Regions from separate parts of the Homo sapiens genome. Here region 1 is linked to region 2. Evidence: fine-mapped expression QTL. A gene starts in region 2. The other region holds a variant in brackets. All regions are shown on one strand. Distances are from middle to middle.

Region 1 (8,340 bases), 58 kb before region 2:
AAATTTGGAAAAGCAAAAAGAGCAAAACAAACTCACCTATTAATTGTTCTACTTCCCAGAGACAAACATTGCCAACATGTTGGTGAATATCCTTCCAGTCTGTTTTATATCCCTTGAATTGTAACTTGTTTTCTCTCATTTTCAATAACAATAGTCAGGAACATTTCTGGGCCATGCATTTTATAAATGTAGGTTCTAATATTTAAACATTTTTTTTCCTATGAAAAGGAAAAATAAGACAACCAAATATTATTGTTGAACTGATTCTAAAGGCTAGTCAGGTGGCTATTATAAAAAATAAATATGTAATTACTGCCACCTAAAGGAAAATTGTTAAACATACTGAAAAGATATTTTAAGATTATGTTTGATATATGAAGCTATTAAGGGGGCTAATTTTGTGTTTTTAAAAATTTTTCGTCTTTTAACAGGTTGCTTTTATCCTTCGTTTGAAAAATTATTCATTTGAATCAATAATTACTATATTATTCATGAATAATATTAATAGTGAATATTCATGTATTTATTATATAAGTAATATATTCACTAGCATAAAATTTTTAAGTGACAAAATTATATACAGTGAAGAGTAGGTCCCTGTATTACTTCATTTGTGTTGCTATACAAGAATACCTAAGGCTGGGTAATTTATAAAGAACAGAGGTTTATTTGGTTCATGGTTCTCAGGCTGTACATGAAGCATAGTGCTGGCATCTGCTTCTCGTGAGGCCTCAGGAAGCTTCCACTCATGAAAGAAGGCAAAGAGGGAGCTGGTATGTTACATGGCAAGAGAGAGAGCAGGAGAGAGAGATAGAGAGAGGAGGTGCCAATCTCCTTTAAACAACCAGCTCTCATGTGAATGAACAGAGCGTGAACGGAGCAAGAACTTCCTCATTACCATGAGGATGGCAAGGGGGATCTGCCCCCATGACCCAAACACCTCCCACCAGGTCCCACCTCCAACAGTGGGGAGTTCTCTCTCTCTCTCTCTGTCTCTGTCTCTCTCTCTCTCTCTTTCTTTCTTTCAACAGAGTCTCACTCTGTTGCCCAGGCTGAGTGCAGTGGCGTGATCTGGGCTCACTGCAACCTCAGCTTCCTGGGTTCAAGTGATTCTCCTGCCTCAGTCTCCCTAGTAGCTGGGATTACAGGCACCCGTAGTTCGCCTAGCTGATTTTTGTATTTTTAGTAGAAACAGAGTTTTACCATGTTGGTCAGGCTGGTCTCAAACTCCTGACCTTGTGATCCGCCCGCCTCGGCCTCCCAAAGTGCTGGGATTACAAACGTGAGCCACCGTGCCCGGCCCTGGGGAGCATATTCAACATGAGGTTTGGAGAGGGCAAACATCCAAACTACATCAATTCCCTATCTATCTCTGCCCTCTTAACCATAATTCCCCTCCACAAAGTCGATTGCTACAGGCAGTTTCTTGTGTATTTTTTCAGATAGTCTGTATATACATAAGACTCAATGTTTGTGAATGTGTATGTGTATATTGATACATGCATTAAAATACTCACAGGTGGTAGTATATGGACCCATTAGTCTCCACTTTGTTTCTGTTTGTGTATTTTGTCTTGTTTTATTTTCAGTATCCAGAGATCACGTCAGCATATATTGGGGATGGCTTTAAAACAAATGCGGGCTGGGCGCGGTGGCTTATGTCTGTAATCCCAGCACTTTGGGAGGCCAAGGCAGGTGGATCACTTGAGGTCAGGAGTTTGAGACCACCCTGACCTACATGGTGAAACCCCTTCTCTACTAAAAATACAAAAACTAGCTGGGCATGGTGGCTTGCGCCTGTAGTCCCAGCTACTTGGGAGGCTAAGGCAGGAGAATGGCTTGAACCCAGGAGGCAGAGGTTGCAGTGAGCCGAGATTGTGCCATTGCACTCCAGCCTGGGCAACAGAGCAATGCCTTGTCTCAAAAAAAAAAAAAAAAAATTAAAATAGGCTGGGTACGGTGGCTCACACCTGTAATTCCAGCACTTTCGGAGGCTGAGGCGGGTGGATGAATTGAGGTCAGGAGTTCGAGACCAGCCTGACCAACATGGTGAAACCCTGTCTCTACTAAAAATACAAATATTACCCAGGTGTGGTGGCACGTGCCTATAATCCCAGCTACTCGGGAGGCTGAGGCAGGAGATTTGCTTGAATTCTGGAGGCGGAGGTTGCAGTGAGCTGAGATCACATCTCTGCACTGGGCGACAGAGTGAGACTCCATCTCAAAAACACCCCACAAAAACTGTATTTCATTCAAACATAATCTGTTTTAGAGTCTCCAATTCATAGATATTTAAGTCATCTCTGTTTTTGCTATTTCTTATTCAATGATGGAAATCTTTGTACATAAATTGTTGTACATAAATCTTTGTACATAAATCTTTGCATATGTGTCAAAAATATGTATAGAGTATGATCCTAGGAAGGAAATTGTTGAAGCCTTTGATTTCTTATCCAACTCTAACCCTTCCTATTTCCCTCTCTTCATTTTTCCAATACAGTTATATAAATTGCTTACTTGTCCAGGCGCAGTGGCTCATGCCTGTAATCCCAGCACTTTGGGAGGCCGAGGTGGGCGGATCACGAGGTCAGGAGATCAAGACCATCCTGGCTAACGTGGTGAAACCCTGTCTCTACTAAAAATACAAAAATTAGCTGGGCATGGTGGCATGCACCTGTAGTCCCAGCCACCCAGGGGACTGAGGCAGGAGAATTGCTTGAACCCAGGAGGCGGAGGTTGCAGTGAGCCGAGATTGTGCCACTGCACTCCAGCCTGGGCAACAGAGTGAGACTCCATCTCAAAAAAAAAAAAAAAAACAACTTAGTTAAGCCAAAAGTCAGTGTTTACATTTTTGTCACTATTAAATATTATTCACCACTGAACCAAATAGGATCTTGTCATCATATCTTCTTTCTTGTATAACCTTCTGCTTTTTCTGACATTAGTAATTGCTAATCCCCTTCATCACTGGCCAAATTGCTTAGTTTTCTACATACAATTACTATTTTTTTCTGTTCAAAGGATACTGGAGATTTGGCAAACTTTTGGTAATCCTTTTCCTCCAAATTCCCAAACACATTAAATAATTATTAAAGGTTGGGCATGGTGGCTTATGCCTGTAATCCCAGCACATTGGGAGGCCAAGGCAAGAGGACTGCATGAAGCCAGGAGTTCTAGAGCAGCGTGGGCAACATAAGGAGACCCCTCTACAAAAAATAAAAGCAAAAATAAGTTGGGTGTGGTGGTATGTGCCTCTAGTCCTAGTTACCTGGGAGGCTGAGGTGGGGGGATCACTTGAGCCCATGAGTTCCAGCCCATAGCAGTGGGCTATGATTGTGCCACTGCACCTCAGCATGGGTTGACAGAGACCTTGTCTCTAAAAATATATTATTATTATAATAATAATTAACAGTTATGTTTTTCTCCCTAGATAGCTCCCTTTTGTTCTTTCACAGCCTTCTGCCTTTGGGATGGCTGCTTGCTAGGTGTAATAGATGTTTTATTAGCAAGATATTTTCTCTCAGAATTTTGAGGGCATTGCCCTGTTGTCTTCTGGCATTTTGTATTGCTATTGAAAAGGCTGATGCCAGTCAGATTGCTGATCCATAAGGCAATATGTGACCTGGTTTTTCATTCTGGAAGTTTTTAGTATCTTTTCTTTATTTCCAGTATTCTAAAATTTTAAAATTAATTGCCTTAGAGAGTGTGGCAGAGACGGGTATTAGACCATCAAAAAAATGTCCTTCTTCCTTGGTGCAGAGTGGTTTAGAGGAAGCCTGTGCCTGGCACTGCTCAGCATTTCCCAGCCCCATTGCATTCAGGAAGAA[C/A]CTTGTGACTGGTTCTTTCTAACAGAAGGAGTGTGAGCTGAACTGATGTGTGTCAGCTGAGGTGGTGGTGGTGGGGTCAAGGGCAGGGACTGGAGTGGAGGGCATGACAAGAAGGGATGCAGCTAGTTCAGGAAGACCAGTGTCAGAGGAGTCAGGGCCCAGGGATCCAAGGTCCATGTTAATGTTTCCACTCTATCCCCAGTGCCAGCCCTGCACCCCACTCCTGCCCCTGCTTGGTGCTCAATGACCCTGTGTCTGGCTTCTCTGGGGAGAACTGACTCTGTCTTATTCACTTCCCTTTCTCCAGGCTCTCAGGTAATTTTCTCTACTCTGATAAGTAAGTTGCTTCTCATTCTTTCCTTTTCCATCTTCCAAACACTTATTGAAATCCTTTTCTGTTATTCTCTTTATCTTTATGAATTTTATCGTTTTACTTCCCTTAACCGTCATTGTGATGGCTTGGGGAGTGTATTAGGTTCCAAGGGCTGCTGTGACACATTACCACAAAATTAGGGGCTTAACACAACAGAAATTTATTCTTTCACAGTTCTGGGGTCCAGAAATCTAAACTCAGTTTCATTAGGCCTAAATCAAGGTGTTGGCAGGGCCTCTTTCGGCTTCTGGTGGCTGCTGGCATTCCTTGGCTTGTGACTCCATCACTCCAGTTTCTGCATGATCACAATTTCCTCCTCCTCTTCTGTTGGTACCAAATCTCCTTCAGCCTCTCTCCTATAAGGACACTTGTGATTGTATTTAGGGCCCACCCAGATAATTCAGGATAACCATCCAAAGATCCTTGACTTAATTACATCTGCCACGTACTTGCCACATAAAGTAACATTCACAGATTCTGGAGATTAGGATGTAGACACATCTTTGGGAGCCATTATTTAGCCTACGACAGGGAGAGAAGATGAAAGCATATGGTCAGTCTACAATATTTAATGGGGGTTCTTTCCGTGTTTTCCTCTAGTGCCTTGCAATTTCCTTTTAGCATTTCAATCTTTGATCTAATTGGAATCTATTTCAGAATGGAGCTTCCTTGTTATCCCAAATGCCAATTTTTAATTTTATTATTTTATTTTATTTTTTTGAGATGGAATCTTGCTCTGTCACCCAGGCTGGGGTACGGTGGCACAATCTCAGCTCACTGCAACATCCACTTCCCGGGTTCAAGTGATTCTCCTGCCTTAGCCTCCTGAGTAGCGGAGATTACAGATGCCCACATCCAAGGTGGCTAATTTTTTTTTCTTTTTTGTATTTTCAGTAGAGATGGGGTTTTGCCATGTTGGCCAGGCTGGTCTTGAATTCCTGACCTCAAGTGATCCGCCCATCTCGGCCTCCCAAAGTGCTGGGAGTACAGACATGAGCCACCATGCCCGGTTGCCAATTTTAAAATATTTTGTCTTTTCTCCCTGGATATGAAATAAAAGTGATTAGGTCTTAAGATAAAAAAATTAAAACACATTTATTTTCCTGTAACATGCAAAAATGCAAAAAAAAAAAAAAAGAAAGTAAAATAAAATAGATATAATTTTGGAGAAATTGCCTTTGCTCACTGTGGATTCTGGAGGGTGTGAGTGATGGACAGGTCCATCTGTGCATGGAGAATGGAAAGCCCCTTCTCCAGGATCACCCTTTACCTTAGGAGAACACCTCAGCTCCAGGCACCAAGCAGGAGTATCATAGGCACTTAGCTTTACTCCTATAGACAAATAAGAGTGGGGAGACTATGTGGTAAGGAATGATACCCTTACACTCTTTCCAGCCCTTCCCAGTCTTACAAGGAGTGACACACTTGGTGGCCTTCAAGCCTGTCACTGCAATTCATGCAGTGGGTGGTAAGAGGACAAAGCACGCTAGGTCCCTGATCCGACCTCCCAGGGATGACAGGTCTGGCTACTCCTCAAACTGAACCTGAAAGAATGCAAATGGTTCAAGTTTTCACCCTGATTCTGGCACACCCCGAGGCAAAAATAGCCATTTGCCTTCATACGAGCTTCTGTGTAGGCTGTGAATAAGGAGGTTTCTATCTCAGCTTTCTTTTTGCTCATTTAAAGACAACTGAGAGTACGACAGGGTAATTGTTTTGTTTTAAAGCACTGTAATTTAGTTCCTTTCTGGACCTTCTATGTATGAGTCATTTTCTGTAGCAGTACTAAGAGATGCAAATAGAAAAACATTATTTCTGAAAGCTTGAGATTTCAAGCTGGGCCTTTTATTCACATTCTCTTGCTAGTTTTAGTTTTACTTGTGACATTCATGTTATTAGAAGAATGACACAATTTCAATCACATTTTTGTCCCATGTACTAATGTAGCAAACAATTTCACAACCTTCCCTTTCTTTTACATGTGAGTCATTATCATTTGGTTTTGTTCTCCTTTACTCCTGAACTCACTATCTCCTGATCACATGTATACACATTTCTCTGATATCCTAGATCTTTATGGGTGATCAAGATTTTTGTATATTCTGTTTTGTTGCTTTCATACCCGCTAGTATCCTTTTTAAGTTTGACTCTTTTATACTTTGGGAGATGCCAAACAAATACTTCAGGAGAAAGGAGGCAGTGTGTTGAAAGGAAGTTGACAAAGCAAGAAGAAAAGAAGAAGAAGATATAAGGAGGAAACGTAGTGGCTCTTAAACAAAGATCTTGCATCTTTTCCTTCTTTAATTTTTTTTTTTTTTTTTTTTTTTTTTGGTTTGAGACAGAGTGTCACTCTGTCATCCAGGCTGGAGTACGGTGGTGCAACCTTGGCTCACTGCAACCTCCACCTGCTGGGTTCAAGCGATTCTCCTGCTTCAGCCTCCTGAGTAGCTGGGACTACAGGCGCAGGTTACCACGCCTGGCTAATTTTTGTATTTTTAGTGGAGGTGGGTTTCACCATGTGGGCCAGGCTGGTCTCGAACTCCTGACCTCAAATGATCCACCCACCTCGGCCTCCCAAAGTGCTGGGATTACAAAACAGAATTGCTTGAACCCAGGAGGGAGAGGTTGCAGTGAGCTGAGATGGCGCCACTGCACTCTAGCCTGGGCAACAGAGCGAGACTCCATCTCAAAAACAAACAAACAAACAAACCAAACCCAACTTTGAACCCAGAATCAGAAAGCAGATTTAATTTGGAACTCTATAGAATGTCTGCACATGAACAGATGCCATAGCCGTAACAAAAATTAGGGCCACAGCCACTTTTCTTGCATCTCCTCCTTCCTCCTTTTTTCTTTGGCTTTCTTGTATAAACCTTAGCATAAGGCATGGTTGCTTGGTTTACAAAATATTTGTTTATGAAAGTTGCAAAGGTGAGAAGAGGGATTTCAGAATCAGAAAGACTGGGTTTCAAATTTTGGCTTTGCTCTGTGACCTTTGGCAAATTATATAACTTCATTAAGCTTCAGCTTTTCCCTAGTAAATATTTGACTGATGAGAGGTAAATGAGAAAATGTGTATAAAAATCTTAGTATAGTGCTTAGCATTTCAAGCAACCCAGAATATCAACTAATTTGTTAAATGAATATTTCTTGAATATTTACTGTATGCTGAACTGTCTGCCAGGTTGAGGCTGCTGTGGTGAATTGGACAGGAAAGATTCCTGGCCTTGTGGAGCTTGCATTCTGGTGGGAAAAACAGACAATAAACATGTAAACAAATCAATAAAATAACCAGATGGTGAGAAGCCCTGAAAGAAATAAAAAAAAAAGTGTGTTATTAAGAACAGCAGGGAGGATCTGTGTCCTATGCTGGGGAAGTCAGGGAAGATTTCACAGCAGCCTGAAGAATGAGAAAGAGCCAGCTGTACTATGAGCTGTTTAAGACAGAGGAAATTGGGTCACTGGCTTAGAGAGAGATTGGGTTCTACTCACTGTCAGAGGCCAGCAGTGCAAGGTTCCTCCTTATCTTCTTATGGCCTGTGTCCTTCTATAGCCCTGGCCACTGAGAATTGGCTCAGACTGTGACTGTGACTTGCTGTCCTCAACTTCCTTATCCAACTGAAATTGGATGGTCCATCATAGTCACCCTCTTGAATAGATCCCAAACTCCCTTGTCCTTTTAATTGTACTTTAAACTCACTTGGCCAAACTCCAACCCTGGTTAAATCCAGCTCTCTGCCCTACTCCATGTCTTTGCCCATTGAGTATGGTGGAAGAATAGCCCACAATCTCATTGGCTGGTTCTATGGTCTGAATGTTGGTATGCTTTCCAAAATCATAGGCTGAAACTTAATCCTCAATGTCATAGCATGGAGGTGGAGACTTTGGGGGAAGTGATTAAGTCATGAAGACTGCCTTCATAAATGGGATAATGTAAAGGAGATTAAAAGGAGGCTGTTTGCTCCCTTCTACCATGTGAGAATGCAGCAAGAGGTACCATCTCTGTGCAATGAGCCCTTACCAGACATTGAACCTGCTGGCACTTTATCTTGGACTTCCCAGCCTCCAGAACTGTGAGCAATACATTTCTGTTGTTTATAAATTACCCAGTGTAAGATACTTTGTTATAGCAGCACAAAT
Region 2 (8,340 bases):
TCCCTACACCTTCTTGCCATTTTCACCCACTGACTCCAGTGAAACAAACCTGTTTCTACAATAGGCTCAGGAGTATGCAGACAGATTACAAAAGGACACCTGCTGGATATACAGACTCATGCCTCTTTCCAGTGGCTCTGGCCTGCCATGGTAGGTATCCTCCTTCCAAGGTTAGGACCAAAAATTTATTATATCACAGAAATGGTCTGGTATTCTTAGTGCTGGCATAAGAGAACAAGGAAGATGGGAAAAGTTTTTCAATGGAAAGGACCAGCTCATTAGCTCTCACTTTAGCATCCCCCACAACTAAAAAAAAAAAGGTGGTAATTATGCCCCAAACAACAGCCCATTTCAAAATGGAATAATGCAAATTTGGGATGAATTTCTCTGGCTCACCCCTTCATTTGGCCAACTCAGCCAAAATGCTGGGAGCAAAGAAACCACACCAAGGATTTATGGCCAGAAAGTATGAGAAATATGGGGTGGATACTGGGAGAATGCTGTGACCACATTATCATATTACAAGACATTGACTGGCATGCCACCGATTGGTTGTAGCAACTAGGTATTTATTGGCTAGCTCCAAATGGGACATATTGGCTGTGTGGTACTAACTTACGGCTGTGGTCACCTCCAGGGTGATTAGGAAAATGTTCCCCAGGTTACGCTTGAGAACAGGGGTGAATAATTCAGACCCTGCCAAAACCAGCAAGCCTTTTTCATTTACGATCTCACTGGACACGTTCAGTATTCCAGGGGCATGATCACTTGAAGATTGAAGCTAAGTATTGAAGACATTATATGGCCTATAGAGGCCTTAATGAATTACACCAAAAAGGCCCTAAATGATAGCCAGATGAGTATCCCGTTGCTAAATAATGAGGTCATGCTTTTGAGGAAAGCTGTGTTGCAAAACCATATGGCCTCAGATATACTCACAGCAGCACAGCGGGGGGCCTGCACCATCATAAAAGCTGAATGCTGTGTGTATATTCCACATGAATCGAAGAACATAACCTGACTTATGACTGATATGAAACCCCGGAAAACCAACCTGTCAGATCCAAAACCCTCACTAATCAATTGGTTGAGTGATTGGTTTGCATCCTGGGGAAGTTGGTGGCAGAAGCTGTTGCTTATAATAGGAATAATAATAATAATAATAATTTCTGTTCTGTCCTGTTTCTGCTTACAGTGTTGTTAAGGTATGTGCTTGCAAATAAGTCCACACACAACTGAAAGGGCTAGGGTAATGATTGCCCAGGGAATTGCTCTAATTGAGGAGGCAGTAATATAACCTGACCCACCTTCCAGGTTTGCTTCCTATTTGTTGCTATACATCTGGCCTAGGTCCATATATATATACATATATATGTGTGTGTGTGTGTATTTTTTTTTCTTTTCCTTCTTTTTTCCCATTTTTTTTTATCTTCATGGGACATAATGTCTTAGGAATGAGCCTTCATAGCAACGTGGGACCTGAACTTCTAGGAGTTAACCAACCTAGTGAGGAGAAACCAGCTCAAAAGAAAAGGAAGAAAAAACAACCCTAGGCCAGAAAGCTGTATTCCTTCTAAAATGCTTTCTCCAAAAGATTTTAAAGAAAAAGAAGGGAAAATGTGAAAGGAAATTAAATCTTGAGACCCCAAACTCATTAAGCCAAAGGGAAAAGTTAAGCTAGGAACTGGGTCATGCAAATCTGCGTCCCCCTTTTGGTTTGTAAATAAGATGGCTACAAGATGAAAAGCTACATGTCTCCTCCATATTTTGCCCACAAAGAAATTCCTAGTGAGCTGCAAGATCTTTTAAGGTATTTCTGTTAAAATTTCACCATGGCAATGTAAATGGATAGATTATCTTTACAGATGCAGTCACCCTGCTGCCCACCAAACACAAATGAATATCTCATTGTTCCCCTGCCCCATTTTGCCTATGCTATCTTACGTAAAAATGTAGATTTCCTGCATTTTTCCTCTGCTCCATTTGTCTCTGTCATCTTATATATAAAAAAAAGCAGATGCACTGAGCTAGACAAGGGTATGAATGACTATTTTTCCTTATCCCGCCATACATGAAAATTATGTACTTCTCAATATCCCACCTTTTCCCCTTTAAATTTGGAGCCTTCAAAATCATCTTCAGAGAAAGGCATAGAACTGTCTCCTGGGCGTGCATCCTTAACTTTGGCAAATCAATCTCCTAAAATGATTGAGAATTGTCTCATCATTTTTCTCGATTGACACCTTTATAAAAGGGTTGGAGGAAATTGGCATGTTTGCCCTTCTTGCAGCATGTGAGGACACAGCAACAGGACACCATCTTGGAAGCAGAGACTGGGCCTCTCTATCAGACATTAAACCAGTTGGCACCTGGGCGACCCAGTATCCAGAACTGTGAGAAAATAAATTCCTGTTCTTTACACATTACCCAGTCTGTGTGTTATTCTGTTATAGCATCATAAACAGAATAAGACAAAAGTCTTCAAACAATGAATGGATTTTGAAAGGAGTAAAAGATGGGCTGGGCATGGTGGCTCATGCCTGTAGTCCCGGCACTTTGGAAGGCTGAGGTGGGCAGATTGCTTGAGCTCAGGAGTTCCAGACTAGCCTGGGCAACATGGCAAAACCCCATCTCTAAGGAAAAAAAGAAAAAAAAAGGGATGGAGGGGTGGGAGTTTTATAGACAAAGAAATACATAAGCAAACAGATAAGCAAAAGCACGTCCTCAGTAATTCCATGTTGCTTTATCTGTATTCATGATCATGTTTACAAATCCATTCTGGAATTCTGCTGACTACTGATATTTGCAATTTTTGGCATTACTTCTCATCCACCTTAGAAAACCTGGAGAACATTTTTTCTATCTTTAATCTTCATATACATGCTTAATGAATTCTGATGATTATTAATGGAAATTTCATAACATCAATTTATTCACCAATATTTATTAGACCCTTGATATGTTCAAGACCCTGTAGCTGGTGCTGTCGGAGTCACTAAGATGAACTATATAAATAACTACTCTATGTGTACGAATAACTACCCTACAAAGCAGAAAGCTATCAAGTGCCTTAAGGGAGTTGAAACTGTATTTGCTACAGGAGGGCTGAGAGAAGACAGAACATCTACGATTTTTTTTCTTTTCAATTCTCTTCCTACAACTAATTCATCCGACCTTGGAAGTTTGGTCTTACTAAAAACAAAAGTTAGCTGTTCTTTTACAACCTCCTCTTCAAGATTACTTGTCAGGGTTTGCTGTGCCCTTCGCAGCTTGAAAGACTTTCTCTTCATCCAACGATTTGAGGCAATTAGGAGCCACTGCCTTCTCTCTGCCATTGGGTTCCAGAAAGCACCATACATTGTCCGCAGATACTTTACTCATGCTTACACTTTCTTGTTCTGAATCTTCAAAAATTAGTGGCGTGTGGTGGCACACGCCTGTAGTCCTAGCTACTCGGGAGGCTGAGGCAGGAGAATCACTTGAACCTGGGAGGCGGAGGTTGCAGTGAGCCGAGATTTCGCCACTGCACTACAGCCTGGGCAGAATAGAGAGACCCCATGTCAAAAAAAGAAAAAAAAAGTATCTGATTGTGTTTAGCATATCTGCAATATCCCCTTGACTTTGGCCTTTAGCCTCTTTATGAGTACCCTGATGGAGGAAGGCCCAGGAAGCGGTAGCCTTCCTGGTTTGTGACGCACGGTGTGCATTGCGTATTAGATTAACATCAGAATGGCCCTGAAGGCTGGAACATCTTATCTGTGTTTGAGAGTTATGGAAACTCTGATCCTCCATGAGAATAATTTTTCCAAGGTCTCAGATCTCTAAAGCAGTAGATCTTGGATCTGAACATTGCTATTTCTGACCTTAAAGCCCATGCATTTCCCACAACATATGAACCATGATAAGGTGTATTTTAAAGTTCATCTTTTCTGTTTTTTGTGAAAGTCTTTTAGAGATCTCAGCTCATCACAAAGTTTCCGGTTCAGTCTCGTGGGTTTCATGTACTCAGCCAGCATTTACTTGCCAGTCAAGGTCTAGGATGGCTACCTGTCCTCTGCAGGAGCCCCAAGCCTATTCATTAATTTCATTTACAATTTTATAGTCATAATTATTTCTTTGTATAATAGCATTCTGAGATTTTCCAAAATTTCCCACTGTTTTTGTTTTACAGTGGGCAGAATTCACTTTGCTCTAACTTGACTCCAAGATGACACAATTTCCCAGTTTTTTTTTTAACGGCTAGGGGATGGGGGTATGCGGAACAGAACACAGTGGTCTAGCTAACCGATTTCCGCTAGACGTCCAGCTATCTTTCAAAATATTTTGTTTCTGCACGGCAACTTCAGCCGCTAAAAAAGCATCCAGCTTACAACGGAACCTGGAGGGTTGGTAAAGGCCCCCTGCGCTGGCCCCGCCCCATGGGACCGGGCGGCGTGGGCGTGAGAGGCGGGGCGGGGCCGCGCTCTGCTTGCCAATGTCTTTATAGGTCACCCGGAAGGCACGCGGAACCTCGGCGCGGTGCTTCCAGCAGGGTCTCTCCGCCACTCCAGCCCCGCGCCCCTCGCCGCGGCCCTCGGGCGTCTGCGCCGCAGCTGCCGCCCCCGCCTCTTTGGAGTCTCTCGCGGCCTCAAAGCGCGGCCTGCGTCGCTTCCGGCAGTTCCCGACCGCGGGCGATGGCTGCCGCTGGGGGCGCCCGGCTGCTGCGCGCCGCTTCTGCTGTCCTCGGCGGCCCGGCCGGCCGGTGGCTGCACCACGCTGGGTCCCGCGCTGGATCCAGCGGCCTGCTGAGGAACCGGGGGCCGGGCGGGAGCGCGGAGGCGAGCCGGTCGCTGAGCGTGTCGGCGCGGGCCCGGAGCAGGTAGGGCGCCGTGCGGGCGCGATCGCCGGCGCGGGCCGGGGTCCCCGGTGGGTGGCGCCTGGCTCTCTGGGCCGAGTCTCTGGTTCCAGTGCCTTCTGCGCGCCGGGCCCACACCCCGGAGGCCTGCCTCTCGCCCCCCTCTTCTGGGGTGCTCTCGCGGCTCCGTCTCGCTGCTCGGTGGCGTCGCTGCCTCCCTTCCGTCGCACCGCAGAGTTCCTTTCCGCATCACCCACTCCCGGCGGGAATCGGGGACCCTGGACGCCCAGCTCCCTTTCCCAGCGCTTCCCGTGCCCTGAGGAAAGCCGGGACTTTGCTGCTGCTTGTTCTCCGTGTGATTTGTCTGGGATCTGACCTTTGCTCTGCCCGAAACTGGCAGTGACCTTCGCGACAGGCTTCCCTCCTGCTGTCCTGGCCTGACACACCTGCCAGCTGTTTTTTTCAGGGCCTTGCCCTGCTTTGAGAGGACACCCAGGTCCCAGGTCTTTGTCAGGGGGTGTCCAGGTAGAATACACCCAGCCCATACCCTCTGCTGCCCTGTAGGCCCTTTGCTAGTTGCTCAAGTGTTGAAAGCCCCTGCGTTGAAGTAATCTGCCGGGACTTGAAACTTGGCTTTGGCACTGATTGTCTGACGTGCCTAACTTGGTCAGTCCTTAGGAACCCAGTTTCTCCATTTGCAAGTTGGATATAATAACAGTGTAGACCTCCTATGGTTAATTGAAGAATCAATGAGTTAATACAGCGATACAGGTAGTCTTGTGCCTAGCACGTAATGAGGGCTCAGTAGATGCCACTTGGTAGCAGCAGCAGCAGCAGCAGCAGCAGCAGCAGCAGCTTCTTAGGTTCACAATGTTAAGAGAGTTTTGTATTAAATATTGAAAGAAATGTGACAATTTATCCCAAATGTGTTGAAGTTTTAGGTTCTTGGGCATATTTGTTTTTCAAAGACACTCCTTAGATATACTAGAGATACAATTTACACATAATTTTTACCAACATGGTGGCGATTTATATAATGCAGATCTCTCGACAGCTCTTTGACCGCATGATGTAGGGTAGCAGGAATCGAGAACTAGAGGGAGAGTGTGTTGGATTTGTACGCTGCTTTGTCTAGTTTCTTTTTGAGGTCTCTGAGAGCAGGGTCTAAGACTTTCAGTCATCTTTTCCCCACTAATCCCGTTATCTAGTGGGTGCTCCATACATTTTTGTTGTGTGAACTTTGGGGGAAATCAGGGAGAAGGCAAGCCAGATTTATTTGTTCCTGTTTCCTCTGCACTTCCCCCCCTGTCTTTGACCAGTGTGGGTACCTTGCTTTCTGTTATACAATGGATGAGTTTTGGACAACTGAATCAATTGGGACAGATATTGAACATGCTTGTGTAACTGGTATAAGGGAACATGAATGTTTTTGTAGTAATTGGGAGTTATCTTTCTCAGATTTGTTTTTTGGATTTGGATATGTCAGGTTGTTTTAAAGGGGAGCACGTCTATTTCCTCATAATCCTGCTGCCCTCTTTATTGGCACAATTTCTATTCATGGTCTTATCATTCCTCTTACAGACTTTGGAGCTACAACTGGATTTTCCAGTTCTTACTGTGTTAATGAGACTTGTGCTGTAACTACCGTAACTACTAATCACATGTGGCTATTGAAGTTTAACATAATTAAAGGTAAATAAAATTAAAGATTCAATCTCGTAGTTACACTAGCCACATTTCGAGTTCTCAGTAGCCACATGTGGCTAGTGGCTACTGTATTGGACATTGCAAGTATGTGTAGAACATCTTTGTTATGGCACAAAGTTCTTATAGACAGACAGAGCAGTTCTAGAAACTGTAGTTCTGTCTTTGAAGTTTAACAACTCGATAAGCTATCAGTAATTGAGAGTCAGAAAAACTCCTTTTACTCTAAAATACCGTGACACAAGGGGGTTTGCAGTGATTCAGGTAGCAAAGATCTTTCACGTGTATTGTTTCGTATGACTCTTAAGACAATTCTATGAGGTAGGGAGGGTAGATAAATGGGAATAAAAATTTCATATTAAGTAGCTGGCAAAACTAGGACTAGAACTCAAGAAGTTTTTGCGGATTTTAAAAAAATTTTAAATTTCTATTTATTTTTAAAATTTCAGTAGTTTTGGGGGCACAGGTGGTGTTTGGTTAATGGGTTAGTTCTTTAGTGGTGATTTTGGAGGTGTTGGTGTACTCTTCACCTGAGTGCAGTGGTGCCATCATGGCTCACTGCAGCCTACACCTCCCAGGTTCAAGCGATTCTCGTGCCTCAGCCACCCGAATATCTGGGATTACAGGCGCGTGCCACCACACTCGGCTAAGTTTTGTAGTTTTAGTAGAGATGAGATTTCACTATGTTGACCAGCCTGGTCTGGAACCCCTGGCCTCAAGTAATCTGCCTGCTTCAGCCTCCCAAAGTATTGGGATTACAGGCGTGAGTGACCACTCCCAGCATAGGGTCTACATCTTCTGACTCTTAGGTTCCATACTCTTTCAACTTAAGAATTACATTTTTCTTTCGTTTCCGCCTCCTCTCCTCTTCTTTGGTAAACCTGTTAATACTCTTACTTGGCAGTTTTTTGTAGGGCTGTTTACCTTTAATACAGACCAACAGGTTGGGCTTCTTAGCAAAAGGGCTTGGTCTTTAAATAACAGTTATTAATCAGTGTGTGTTGAATTCTACTATGTGTTACGTATTTTGCATACATTGTCAGAACTATAAGATTAATGTTGTCCAATTTTATAGAAGAGGAGGCTGATGTAAGAGATTTCGAATTCCTTTGCTGTAAGCTTAGCTCTAGAGTGCTTCAGAAGAACAGCAACGCTGAAACCTCTGGCTTTCAGTAGTGTGTATAAATGATGGAATTCTTTCTAATGTGCTTCCTGTAGCTTTAGCTACCAGGCATTCGTTGATGTCAAATCTCTAGACTTCTCTGCTGGGCTCAGACCCATACCCATATTGCCATCTGGTGTTTGGACATTCTCATCTGGCTTTTTCATTATTAAATTCAGCAGGTCTAAGCTTCAACTTATTTCTGTCTTCCCCAAAGTTCCTTTGGTTCCTGTCTTAAACCTAGGTTAAATGGTACCACCTAATTGTGTGAGCTGGAAATCCCAATGTTTTTCTTTCCGCTTTTCAGTTTATCTTATGTAGATGGTCACTAAAACCTTTTGGTCTACCTCCTGGATGTCTGTTAAGTCACTGCATTCTCTGTCCCTGATTAGTTTATGCTGTTTTGATAACCTCCAAAGTGGCCTCCCTGCCTCTAGGGTATTTTCATTCTCAGCCATTGTACTTTGAAAAAAATGGCAGTTATTCATGTTGAAAATTATGAATAATATGTGGGAATACTAGTTTTAAAGCATGTTTTGGCTGTGAAAAGAAGTTGGAGAGCGCAGGCCCTTTTGAGGAACATTCTGGTACACACACACACACCCTTTTGATGAGTTTTAATGAATAGAATCCTGTTTTT

Evidence for each region.
Region 1: its variant is fine-mapped to the expression of FDX1 in monocytes after LPS (Quach 2016, PIP 0.91).

What each region holds. Positions count from the first base shown.
Region 1 is chr11:110,367,448-110,375,787 of GRCh38, forward strand. All of the region lies in intron 2 of LINC02732 (long intergenic non-protein coding RNA 2732), which reads left to right. LOC107984385 (a long non-coding RNA gene) reads right to left here. Exons shown (of 2, transcript XR_007062885.1): 2 at 4,337-4,722. Among named protein-coding and RNA genes, the nearest start is that of LINC02732, 17 kb to the left of the region's middle. The variant C/A (reference allele first, on the strand shown) is at 3,828.
Region 2 is chr11:110,425,448-110,433,787 of GRCh38, forward strand. It overlaps FDX1 (ferredoxin 1), which reads left to right and starts at 4,501. Exons shown (of 4, transcript NM_004109.5): 1 at 4,501-4,858. The coding sequence starts at 4,674. RefSeq lists a silencer at 4,315-4,964 and an enhancer at 5,035-5,314.